Linked DNA regions of Homo sapiens. The protein of the gene in region 1 purifies or fractionates together with the protein of each later gene. This does not show direct contact. Each region holds a gene or a part of one and is shown on either strand. Other genes may lie near its edges. The genes, in order: UBE3D, GTPBP2 and CPSF3.

Region 1 (3,751 bases):
AGCAAGGCTCTGGCTCTACAAAAAAATAAAAAATAAAAAATCAGCTGGGTATAGTGGCACGCACCTGTAGTCCTAGCCACTCAGGAGGCTGAGATGGGGAGGATCACTTAAGCCCAGGAGGCTGCAGTGAGCCATGATCACGCCAATGCATGTCAGCCTGGGCGACAGATCAAGAACCTGTCTAAAAGAAAAAAAGATACAGAAGAAAAATCCAACTCTTAGCTCACAGGCTGTACCAAAACAGGCTGCAGGTAGGATTTGGCCAATGGGCCATAGTTCTCTGACCACTGCTCTAAAGATAACACAATGTCCATTTGCTACCTCAATGACTTTCAAACTAGACTGTGTAGAGTTGACACTTCCAAGTGCCGCAAGAGATACCACTGGGTTCCTAAGTCCCCATTGCCACCCCATCTCTGGTTTATCACATTTCTTCCCAGTCCCAAAAACTTTAGTCATTTTATAGGGCCAAGCAAGAGAAGCATCATTGCAAGGGTGGTGACACAGTGGCCCAGCACGGATTTGAGAAACTAAGCAGACTGTGGAGGGCATCCATAGGGCCAAGCAAGGGAGGCATCAGTGCAAGGGTGGTGACACAGTGGCCCAGCATGGATATGAGAAACCAAGCAGGCTGTGGAGGGCATCCACCAGGAGGACCACTCAGCAGGGGTGTCAAATCCCAAGACAGGTGAGGAGGAAATCTGAACAGGAGGTGAGGCCAGCTCAGGATGGGGTTTCAGAGCCTGTCTTAGCTCAGCTGCTATAACAAAATACTATAGATGGGTGGCTTAAACAACAGACATGGCAGAGTAAGGAAGTTCAGTGCCTCTTCCTCTTCATATAAGGACACTAATCTCATCAGGGGGGCCCCGCCCTCAAGAACTCATCTAAATCTAACTACCTCCCAAAGCCCCATCTCCTAACACCATCACTTTGGGGGTTAGGGCTTCAACATGTACATTTTGAGGGGACACAAACATTCAGTCCATAACAGGGTCCAAGCAGGTGAGGAGAGTGTCAACAATGAGCAGGGGGAGGTGGCAAAGGATGCCAGCAGACTATTAATTACATAGAGGGAGACTGACAAAATAAATAAATGCCACTAGGACAATGAGGGCCATGATTCTCACTGTGGGAGAATGGAGTTACAAAAAGAGAAAGCGAGGAAACTAGAATAGACCCTATGGTGGTGGGGCAGAATTAGAAATACCTGTGTGAAGTCATGGTTTTCAATGTTTACAAATAGATACAGTAATATTGATGGTTGTAAATGCATGTATGTACATAGGTATGTAGGCACAACCATACATAGACATCATATATAAGTCATACACACATACCCTAGTTCTGGGAGAAGCGACATCCAACAGTGATGAGTACACTTAGTGCCCAGATCTTGGTTTGTAAAGGCCATTTTCTGCTTTAAAAAACGAAATGAACAAACCAGAAACAAAGTTCCTCAGTAAAATGACTACATCCAGGGCTGTAACAGGGAAAGAATGAAATATGCCTGGAACATGTTGCTGGAACATGAAGAAATCAAAGAATGACAGGTACCTACCAAAAAAGACGCAGAAACCATCCAGAAAGGACTTCCTTGGCCACATCTGGTATAATATGAACAAAAAAGTAGCCCATTGAATAAAATAAAAAATAAAACCCACTGAGTAACCCACAGTAAGAATCATGTATCCTTACTGACACACAAATGAATAAAATGAAACTCTGATGAGGAACAGGGTATTTACATAATCTCAGAATACCTCTCCAATTACTGATTATGAAGAGAAAAAGAGTAACTTTAAGGTAGAGAAGCATGGCAGACACTATCTTACTTTAAGTGCTCAAAGTTAACATAACCAATTTGATGGAACAAAGCAAAATCATGTGCCACCTGACAGGAAGCCTCACTTCTGTTATATTCCTGCCAAAGATGCAAAATCTGAATCTTGTCTTGAAGAAACATAAGACAAATCCAAATGGAAGGATATTCTACAAAATGATTGTACTATCATCTTGCAAAGTGTCAGGACCATGAAAGTCAATGGAAAATGAGGAACTCTTCTAGATTGAAACAGACAGAGGAAGCATGACAGTGAAATGCAATGCCTTATTCTGAACTGGATTCTTCTGTTATTAGGGATATTATGTAGACAACTGGTAAAACATGAATGATGTAAGATGGTAGCAACACATTTCCCAATTGTGAGTGTTGGATGATGGTTCTTTAGGAGAATTCCTACTTTAAGACTAAGTTTGATTGACATAGTTCATACAATAATTTCATACTTGAGGCTTTCTTCACCATTGACTTGTATTCTGTCAGGTATCACAACTGCTTAAAACTATCCAATGACTTCATCTCTCACTCTAACTACAAGCTAAAGTCCTTTCGATGGTCCATAAGGCACAGTGGTATAGCAGGCCCTGCTGCTACAAGCTTTGGAGAACCTGTTGTTAAAATTCTAGGAGTTCTGCAAAGCAGGTCAACTCACCTCACCCAGTTGGTAGGCTGAAGGTCATACGTGGTGAAAGTATTCACACCAAAGAAATCAACAAATGCTTCAAATCAAGACCTTAGTTTGTCTTTTTGTTTATTTTCATGGAGAGTAGGTTATTAAACATGTACCAGCACACTGCCATAAGATCTTTTACTATGTGTTCCCCCAACTCACCCGCATCTCTCTGAACTAGGCACCCTTTCATACTCACTTTCTCTCAAAGGGAAATTGTCTCCCACCAGGTATGGCAGTTCTACACCTCACCAGTTACAGTTTAATACTCAAATGTTAGTTTCTCATTTGAAATAAAAGATTGTAACTTTTTTCTCCCCATTCCTTTTTTGTTTAATTTTTTTCTCCACTTCTATCAAATATATATTTATTTTGTATATTCTCTGCCGCCTCTTCTCTACTGCCACCATTAAACCCTATGCTCAACAAAGGCAGGTGTTTTTGTCTTTGCTGTTGTTACTGTTCATGGCTGTATTCTCAGCACTTAGAATTTGAATTTTTGGCACTAGAGTAAGAACACAATAAACATCTGTGGATTGAATAAATGAATGGCCAAAGTTTATCCCAAAATGCTAAGATATCTTAATATAAATAGATCTTTACATCTGTGAATGTAAACTTTGGAAGCCAGACTCTTTTTCACAACCCACTATGGCAGGAATTAATCCATTCCTGAGAGAGAACTCACCCAACCATCTCCATGGGAGGGCATTAATCTATTCAAGAAGAATCTGCCCTCAGGAACCACGCACCTCCCACTAGGCCCTATGTCTCAACACTGCCACATTGGGGATCAAAGTGAGAAAACATAGGGACAAAACACATCCAAACCATAGCAGTTAGGAACAAGAACACCAATATTTAAATTAACTATAAAATATACTAAACATTTTAATTAGAACACACAGATCATCAGAACAGATTTAAAATCACCCAACTATATATTTTTAAAACTAGCATACAGTTTTATGCTATTTTTAGGGAAATACAGTATTTTTACAGCTTTTTGCTTTATACAGAAAGACATAAGAAAGGTTAAAAAGGTAGAAAGGACACACTATGCAAACAGTATAGTCAACTGATTTCTCATGAAGACTGAGTTATTTTAATGGGAGAAATGATGGCCTTTTCAACTGATGGTGATAGAATAAATGAATATCCTTATACCAAAAAAAGAACTTTGATCCCTACTTCACTGCAAACACAAAAATGAATTCAACATGATCACAGATCAAAAT
Region 2 (3,751 bases), about 39 Mb from region 1:
CAGAGAGTGTGTTTCCTCTGAGTTTCTCTGAAGCACCTTAGATAGGTGCTCATTCAGTAGCCAGTCTCCTAGGCACTTCTCTTAGCGTTCCCTCCCCAACCCATGCACCCACCTCACCTTGCGAAGCAGTGCACGGTCAAAGTCCCCAAGCGCCAGTGTAGCAGCCTGACCAGCTCGCAGCACACGACAGGCAGAGCGGTTGCGCTGGATGCTGCATACTCTCAGCTCCAGGAAGCAGCCATCATCCGTGGGGCCCACCACCAGCTGGTCCCCCTCACGGCAAATCCCACTGCAGCCCAGAGGGCAGGTGGCACAGTGTCAGCCAAGGTCCCCATACCTACTTCTCTATTAGGATCACCCAGAGCATTCCTTCCCTTCTAGGGTTGAGTCCCTCAAGTGGGGAAGAACCCTAAATTCTGACTTGGATGTAACAGGGCTCACTGCCAGAGTTCAGAATCAGAAGACTAATTTCATAAAAGGCCAGCAGTGATGGTGGACAGAGAGACACTTGCTGGTTTAACAACACCGAACACCTAATCACTGAAGGAGCAAGTTATCCCCTTGGGTTTCATTCTCTGCTTTGCAGAGTCTTAGGCCAGCCGCGTTGGCTCACACCTGTAATCCTAGCACTTGGGGAGGCTGAGGCAGGTGGATCACTTGAGGTCAGGAATTCAAGACCAGCCTGGCCAATATGGTGACGACCCCATCTCTACTAAAAATACAAAAATTAGCCGGGCATGGTGGTAGGCGCCTGTAATTCCAGCTACTCAAGGCTGAGGCAGGAGAATTGCTGGAACCCAGGAGGCAGAGGTTGCAGTGAGCCAAGATCGCTCCACTGCAATCCAGCCTGGGCAACAGAGCGAGACTCTGTCTCAAAAAAAAGAAAGAAAGAAAGAAAGAAGAGTCTTAAGTGACGTCTCTCATTTCCCTGTGTGAGATGAAGTCAGTTGAATACACTCTAGTTTTCTTCCTGGAGCTCAAGACCCACACTTCTCTCTCAGGGGCCTGGAGATTCCCCAATAGGCAGCAATACTGTTTCTTCCCTCCAAAGCCAACAGACTACCGTTCTCCAGCTCTTCTGATAGTGAAAGCCTAATCTGCAAATAAGCATGTCCTTTAAATGGGTTCCGTTCAATTCCAGGGTCTCCTCCTTTGGGCCAGGATGTCTTTGAGTATATAGGTGAGGGCTGAGTGGGGAGGGTAGCAAGCAAGACAATTTACCTGGAAAGTGTTCCTCCAACAACAGTCCCCACCTCTGGTACTGTGTAGATTTCATCCACCTGAAGCCAAAGAAAACGCTATCAATGGCCTGCCAAGTAGGGCTGGTGGGTCCAAAATCTCTAAACAGACTCTGGGTTTGGTCTGAAGCAGCCCCTCCCTGTTTCCCAGCCTATTAGATGTTTGGGCAGTCAACTACCTGGAACTCCGTCAGCTGCTGCATGAGTTCCTCCTGCTCTTTGCTGTTGGTGAGTGGCGGCAGAATATTCAGAAAGACTTTGAGGAGGTCCAGACTCTCTCCAGACACACTGGACAATGTGAAGATGGGGGTGACACTGTAGAGGGAGGCATGGAATGGACAGATGAAGACAGTCCAAACAGGAGGCAGAGGCCAGAGCCCCATACATGGAAAGGTGAGCTTTGTTCTGGCTGGGGGCCCCTCTCTCCTGTCTGCAAATGGCTCAGGAACTCTGGGCCTTCTTGTGAGCCAGTCGAGCAATGTCACACAAAAAGCCCATCCGAGCCCAAGGGAAACAGCAAATGCCTGGTATAGCACTTCATCGCCATGGTCCCAGGCATCAGCAGTGCTCCAGGTTGGCTCGGGAGGAGGGTCAAGCCCTTTAGCAAGATGCCCCTCCACAATCCCAAGCTGAAACACCCGCAGAACTAAGCCAGAACTGGTCTGGCCCTGGAGAAGTAGGATATCATGCTTCTGGGCCCTGGGCTCTGTGGCAGCCTTCCTAGTGGATCAGGGCTTTAGAGTAAGGTGGGCTTACTTGGGTGACTGAGCAAACTGCTGGGCAGCAGTGACGGCATCATCCTCAGAGGTGACCAGCATGGGGACCTTGTGGCAGCCAGGCTGCTTGAGGACCCGCTCCAGCTGGCGTACTGTCCTCTCCACTGTGGTCTTGGCACATAGGTCGATCTTGCTGACCACGATGAAGAAGGGCACTTTCAGGGCCAGGGCCAGCCCCAGATGTTCCCTTGTGGTGCCAGCTGCCTCATAAGGACAGCAAGCAGCAGGAGAGAAGAGTGAGAATGCAGGAGGGAGGAGAGGGAAGAAGAGGAGCATTGGTCTGTCTCCAAGATTTGAGGCCCAGGGTAGGAGAGTCAGCACCCCCCTTCAGCCCTGTCCCTGCCCTAATGCCTCGTACCAATCCCAGTGTTGGCACTGACGAGGAGCAGGGCGCAGTCGGGGCAGTATGATGTGAGGCCAAAGATGGTGGTGTGTAGGTACTTATGGTGGCCTGCCAGGTCGATGAAGGTGATCATCTTGGAGCTGCTCTCACAGATCTCTTCTGCTGTCCGTGAGTCGCTGTAATTCACCACCTGGCCCAGGGCCCAGGGCCCTCAGTGCCTCCTGCCAGCCCTTCCAACCCCTTCAGAGTTGCCAGGACCTAAACCATTCCCTGGGTGACCCTGCCTCTTAATCTTGACCCCATTTTTTATTTAATTTAGTTGATTCCCCATTGATTTCCTAAGAGGGGCAGAGCTTGTTCACAGTCCCCTCAGGGCATTCATCTATACTATTTCAAAAAGTCTCCACACTCTACCCCCATCCTATGTCCTTCACTACTACCATCCCATCCTCAGAGTCTGGCCCCATTGGGTCCCATTGATCCCATGCACCTCTCCCTTGCTGTTAAAGCCCAGGATCTCGAAGCTGATGCTGGAGGTTCGGCCAGACTGAATCTCATGCAGGTGGCGGAAAAGGTTGAGCCGAGCCCGGCCCCGCCCATTGTCCAGCTCTCCCTGGGTCAGGACTCCAAGCAGAGTTGACTTCCCAGAGTCCACATTCCCCAGGACGGCCACACGGAGGTCTAGGAACTGTGGATGAATTGCCAGAGATAAGAACTCCAATCTCTCACCCCTCTAACTGAAGACTGGGTCAAGGGCAGTGACGCTCCCTAGGGAGCAAGTGATGAACTGGAAGCCCCCAGGATCCCAGGCCAGGAGACAGCCTGCCACCACAGGGCCCTTCCACAGTGTGGACATGAGAGACAGGGATGGGTGTGTGCTCACCTGTTGGTTGTCAGGGACCTTTCGTACTAGCACCTCGGTGATCTTCCGGGGCATGTCGCTATCATAATCCACTTCTCGCTCTCGAAGAACGGTTATGTCTGCCCCAACCCTGTCACAGCAAGGCCACAGCTGCCATATCTCACCTGTCCTTCTCCTATTCCAGGCTCGCTCTGGACCTACAGACTTCCTGCACCTCCCACAGAGCTCCCAATACCTTAGTGCACTTCCTACCACCCTCCAATCTATTCCTCATTCACAGTTCCCTTTAAAACAAATATACATATCTTAATTCAAGGAGCAAAACAGCCTAGGTCCAGTGAGGAGGGGACCAAAACACTAACCCTCCCCACTTCAGCCCTTTGTCAAGAGAAGGAAAGTCCCACCTTGGCCCCTCAGGCCCTAGGTAACTGGGTATGCATGGGTCCCCCCAAGTCAGGTAAAGGAGAACTGGTGGGGAAGGGGAAGCATACTTCTCTGCCATCCGGTGCAGGGTCTTGAGCGAAGCTCGCAT
Region 3 (3,751 bases), on another chromosome or scaffold:
TTTCTCTAAGAAGTTCAGAGCACTTCTCAAGTGGATTAATGTTATATAGGTTATCATTGTGAGATGATACTGGGAATAGATTATTCCCATTTACTAGAGGAAATAATTGAAGCACTGAACCGTTTACTGACTGAACTACACATTTTGAATTGGACACAAGCACTGCATGTAAATTTCATCAGTTTTAGACTTAAAAACTGTAACTGCACTTTTGGATTTCATGAGTTTAATCTATTCACTAGCAAAATGAAGCCTTCCCCAAATCCTAACTTTCTAGTTTTATCTTTTTCACAGCTTTTGTACACTGGTGATTTCTCAAGACAAGAAGATAGGCACTTAATGGCAGCTGAAATTCCTAATATTAAGCCTGATATTCTTATCATTGTAAGTATTAATATACTATATTGTAATCAATGTAATGTAAGCAGATTTTTTTTCTTTTGGAAAATAATACTGTGATCTCACTTTCATAATATGTTATTGGATATAAACTTACCTTTTTTAAAATATAAGAAAACTGGTGGCCGGGCACGGTGGCTCACACCTGTAATCCTAGCGCTTTGGGAGGCTGAGGTGGGCAGATCACTTAAGGCCAGGAGTTAGAGACCACCTTGGCCAACACAGTGAAAACCCATCTCTACTAAAAAAATACAAAAATTAGCTGGGTGTGGTGGTGCAGTTACCTGGGAGGCTGAGGCACAAGAATCACTTGAACCCAGAAGGTGGAGGTTGCAGTGAGCCAAGATCACGCTGCTGCACTCGAGCCTGGGCTACAAAGCAAGACTCAGTCTCAAAAAAAAAAAAAATTGGGGCAGGTGCTTCTTTTTGTAGTGCAGTTTCACTTTCTTGCTGTTAAATGCATTAACTCTAGTCTAATATCAGAGATGCCAGGCTGCCTCTGGGCAGGATCAGCAGGCTGTCTCTGGGCAGGATCATTTTTACTGGCTATGCCCTCTCTCTGTCTTCTAAATATATATTTCTAGATGAGAATATGTAGAAGAACATCTTACGGGTCATTTTAAAATGGTGTGACCTCACTGCCTTTGCCATGGTGACTATCCTCAGGCCCTTAGTCCATGCTAACTTATCGTTTTGTTTATCTTTGTGTGTCATGTCTGCCTACTAGGTTGCAAGTCCCAGGGGAGCAAAAAAAATGAACTGTGTACAGAAGCTCTTTGGGGGCAGCTTGGGATGTGTGTTGCTGACTGTAGAGTCAGGGGTTGGGAGAGAAATCTTGCAAGCTTTTGGTGTATATAAGAACATCAGGTGTATGTGGTTCAAGGAGGAAGAGTTGTCTGTTTCTCCTCCACCACCTACCATGTTCCCCAGCTGCCCAGGCATGTGGGCCAGTACATACTGCTGTCCATAAGCAACATGTGAGCAGATTAGATTGGACTCTGCTCATGGTATGCCCAGCATATAAACTTAATTTAAGGGAAGATTTATTTTTTGAACCCTCAGAAAAAGTAGCTATTTTCATAGTACCATACTTTAGAGCAGTGCTTCAAATTTTAATATGCTTATAATCATCTGATGATATTGCTAAGATACAAATTCTGATTCAGTACATCTGGGCTGGGGTCTGAGATTTTGCGCTTCTGATAAGCTCCCAAGGGATGTCAATCTTCTGGTCAGTGGACCATACCTAGTAAGACTTTAAGGATATTCTTAAACAGAAGTATAAGAAACAACATCTGTTTCTATTTTAAAAGCTTTGACTTATCAGAGGTGGGAGAAATAACCTTTTTCTTCCTAATGGAAAGCAAAATGGTTAAAAAAGGACATGGGAAGAAGATACAGTTTTGGACTATTTCATTTTATAAAAAGTTCTTAGATTTGAATTCTAGCATTCTTTTTTTTTTTTTTTGAGATGGAGTCTCACTCTGGAGTGAGCGACTGCAATGGCATGATCTCGGCTCACTGCAACCACTGCCTCCCAGGTTCAAGTGATTCTCCTGCCTCAGCCTCCTGACTAGCTGGGATTATAAGGCATGCGCCACCATGCCCAGCTAATTTTTGTATTTTTAGTAGAGACGGGGTTTCATCCTGTTGGTCAGACTGGACTCCTGACCTCAGGTGATCCACCCGCCTCGGCCTTCCAAAATGCTGGGATTACAGGCATGAGCCACCATGCCCGGCCTCTTTTTGTTGTTGTTGTTAAATTTTATTTTTTTGAGATGGAGTCTTGCTCTGTCGCCCAGGCTGGAGTGCAATGGTGCGATCTCGGCTCACTGCAACCTCCTCCTCCTGGGTTCAAACAGCTCTCCTGCCTCAGCCTCCGGAGTAGCTGGGATTACAGGCGCCCACCACCACGCCCAGCTTATTTTTGTATTTTTAGTAGAGACAGGGTTTCACCATGTTGGCCAGGCTGGTCTCAAACTGCTGACCTCAGGTGATCCACCCACCTTGGCTTCCCAAAGTGCTGGGATTACAGGTGTGAGCCACCACGCTGGGCCTGAATTCTAGCATTCTTGCTTGCTCTTCCCAATTACTATTATGACAACACATGTTCGAGTAAATGACATGCTAATGGAGAAGTGAATTGCTTAGCCCCTCAGTATTTCATTGATGTTTAACTTTTGAATTCTTGGAGGATCATTGGTCTTAGTCTCACACTTCTAATGTATTATTTAGGAATCTACTTATGGGACCCATATCCATGAGAAACGTGAAGAGCGAGAAGCAAGATTCTGTAACACTGTCCACGATATTGTAAACAGAGGAGGCAGGGGTCTCATTCCTGTCTTTGCTCTTGGAAGGGCTCAGGAGCTGCTCTTGATTCTAGGTATGCCATTTCCTTTGTATTTAGGCGATGATCAAAATCTTGTCATTTTATCAAGATAATAATGTGGTCTTGGATGAGTCATTCCACCGTTCTGGACTTCAGTTTTCTTCATTTAAAAATAGAGATTTGGGGCCGGGCGCGGTGGCTCACGCCTGTAATCCCAGCACTTTGGGAGGCTGAGGTGGGGAGATCACGAGATCAGGAGTTCAAGACCAGCCTGACCAAGATGGTGAAACCCCATCTCTACTAAAAATACAAAAATTAGCCGGGCACAGTGACAGATGCCTGTAATCCCAGCTACTCAGGAGGCTGAGGCAGAGAATTGCTTGAACCTGGGAGGTGGAGGTTGTAGTGAGCCGAGATTGCGCCACTGCACTCCAGCCTGGGCGACAGAGCGAGACTCCATCTCAAAAAATAATAATAATAATAATAATAGGGATTTGGATCTAGGAATAGCCCAGGAAAACAGCAACTCTCATGCACTGCTGTTGGGAATGTGAACTGGCGACCCCTTCCGGTTGCCATCAGAAGTCTTAAAATATGTGTACCCTTTGGCCAGCAGTTCCGCTTCTGGGAAATAAATGAGATGTACAGAAAATTTTGTCAGGAAAGGTATTCATCATTTTAGTATTTTCAAAGAAATATGTGAGTAAATATAGCATTGTAGGAAAAAATTGTGTTACAGATGAGTAATTACATACTTTGCACATAATATATTAAGTCAACCAAAAAAGTAGAGTTCAAAACTATATTTACTCTGGGCTGGACGTGGTGGCTCACGCCTGTAATCCTAGCACTTAGGGAGGCTGAGGTGGGCAGATCACTTGAGGCCAGGAGTTCAAGACCAGCCTGGCCATCATGGTGAAACCTCGTCTCTACCAAAAATAGAAAAATGAGCCAGGTGTGGTGGCACACACCTGTAGTTCCAGCTTTTCTGGAGGCTGGGGCATGAGAATTGCTTGAGCC

Evidence for each region.
Region 2: the proteins of UBE3D (region 1) and GTPBP2 purify together in Homo sapiens (affinity purification with mass spectrometry; 2 studies listed by BioGRID and IntAct, with this or other methods). This does not show direct contact.
Region 3: the proteins of UBE3D (region 1) and CPSF3 purify together in Homo sapiens (affinity purification with mass spectrometry; 5 studies listed by BioGRID and IntAct, with this or other methods). This does not show direct contact.

What each region holds. Positions count from the first base shown.
Region 1 is NC_000006.12:83,059,200-83,062,950, forward strand, and holds part of UBE3D (E3 ubiquitin-protein ligase E3D), read right to left. Parts: intron 1-3,751. UniProt on the Homo sapiens protein: E3 ubiquitin-protein ligase which accepts ubiquitin from specific E2 ubiquitin-conjugating enzymes, and transfers it to substrates, generally promoting their degradation by the proteasome.
Region 2 is NC_000006.12:43,622,516-43,626,266, forward strand, and holds part of GTPBP2 (GTP-binding protein 2), read right to left. Parts: coding exon 3,711-3,751; intron 3,350-3,710; coding exon 3,241-3,349; intron 3,046-3,240; coding exon 2,848-3,045; intron 2,548-2,847; coding exon 2,373-2,547; intron 2,215-2,372; coding exon 1,995-2,214; intron 1,554-1,994; coding exon 1,418-1,553; intron 1,281-1,417; coding exon 1,222-1,280; intron 290-1,221; coding exon 118-289; intron 1-117.
Region 3 is NC_000002.12:9,433,577-9,437,327, forward strand, and holds part of CPSF3 (cleavage and polyadenylation specificity factor subunit 3), read left to right. Parts: intron 1-294; coding exon 295-384; intron 385-2,634; coding exon 2,635-2,785; intron 2,786-3,751. UniProt on the Homo sapiens protein: Component of the cleavage and polyadenylation specificity factor (CPSF) complex that plays a key role in pre-mRNA 3'-end formation, recognizing the AAUAAA signal sequence and interacting with poly(A) polymerase and other factors to bring about cleavage and poly(A) addition.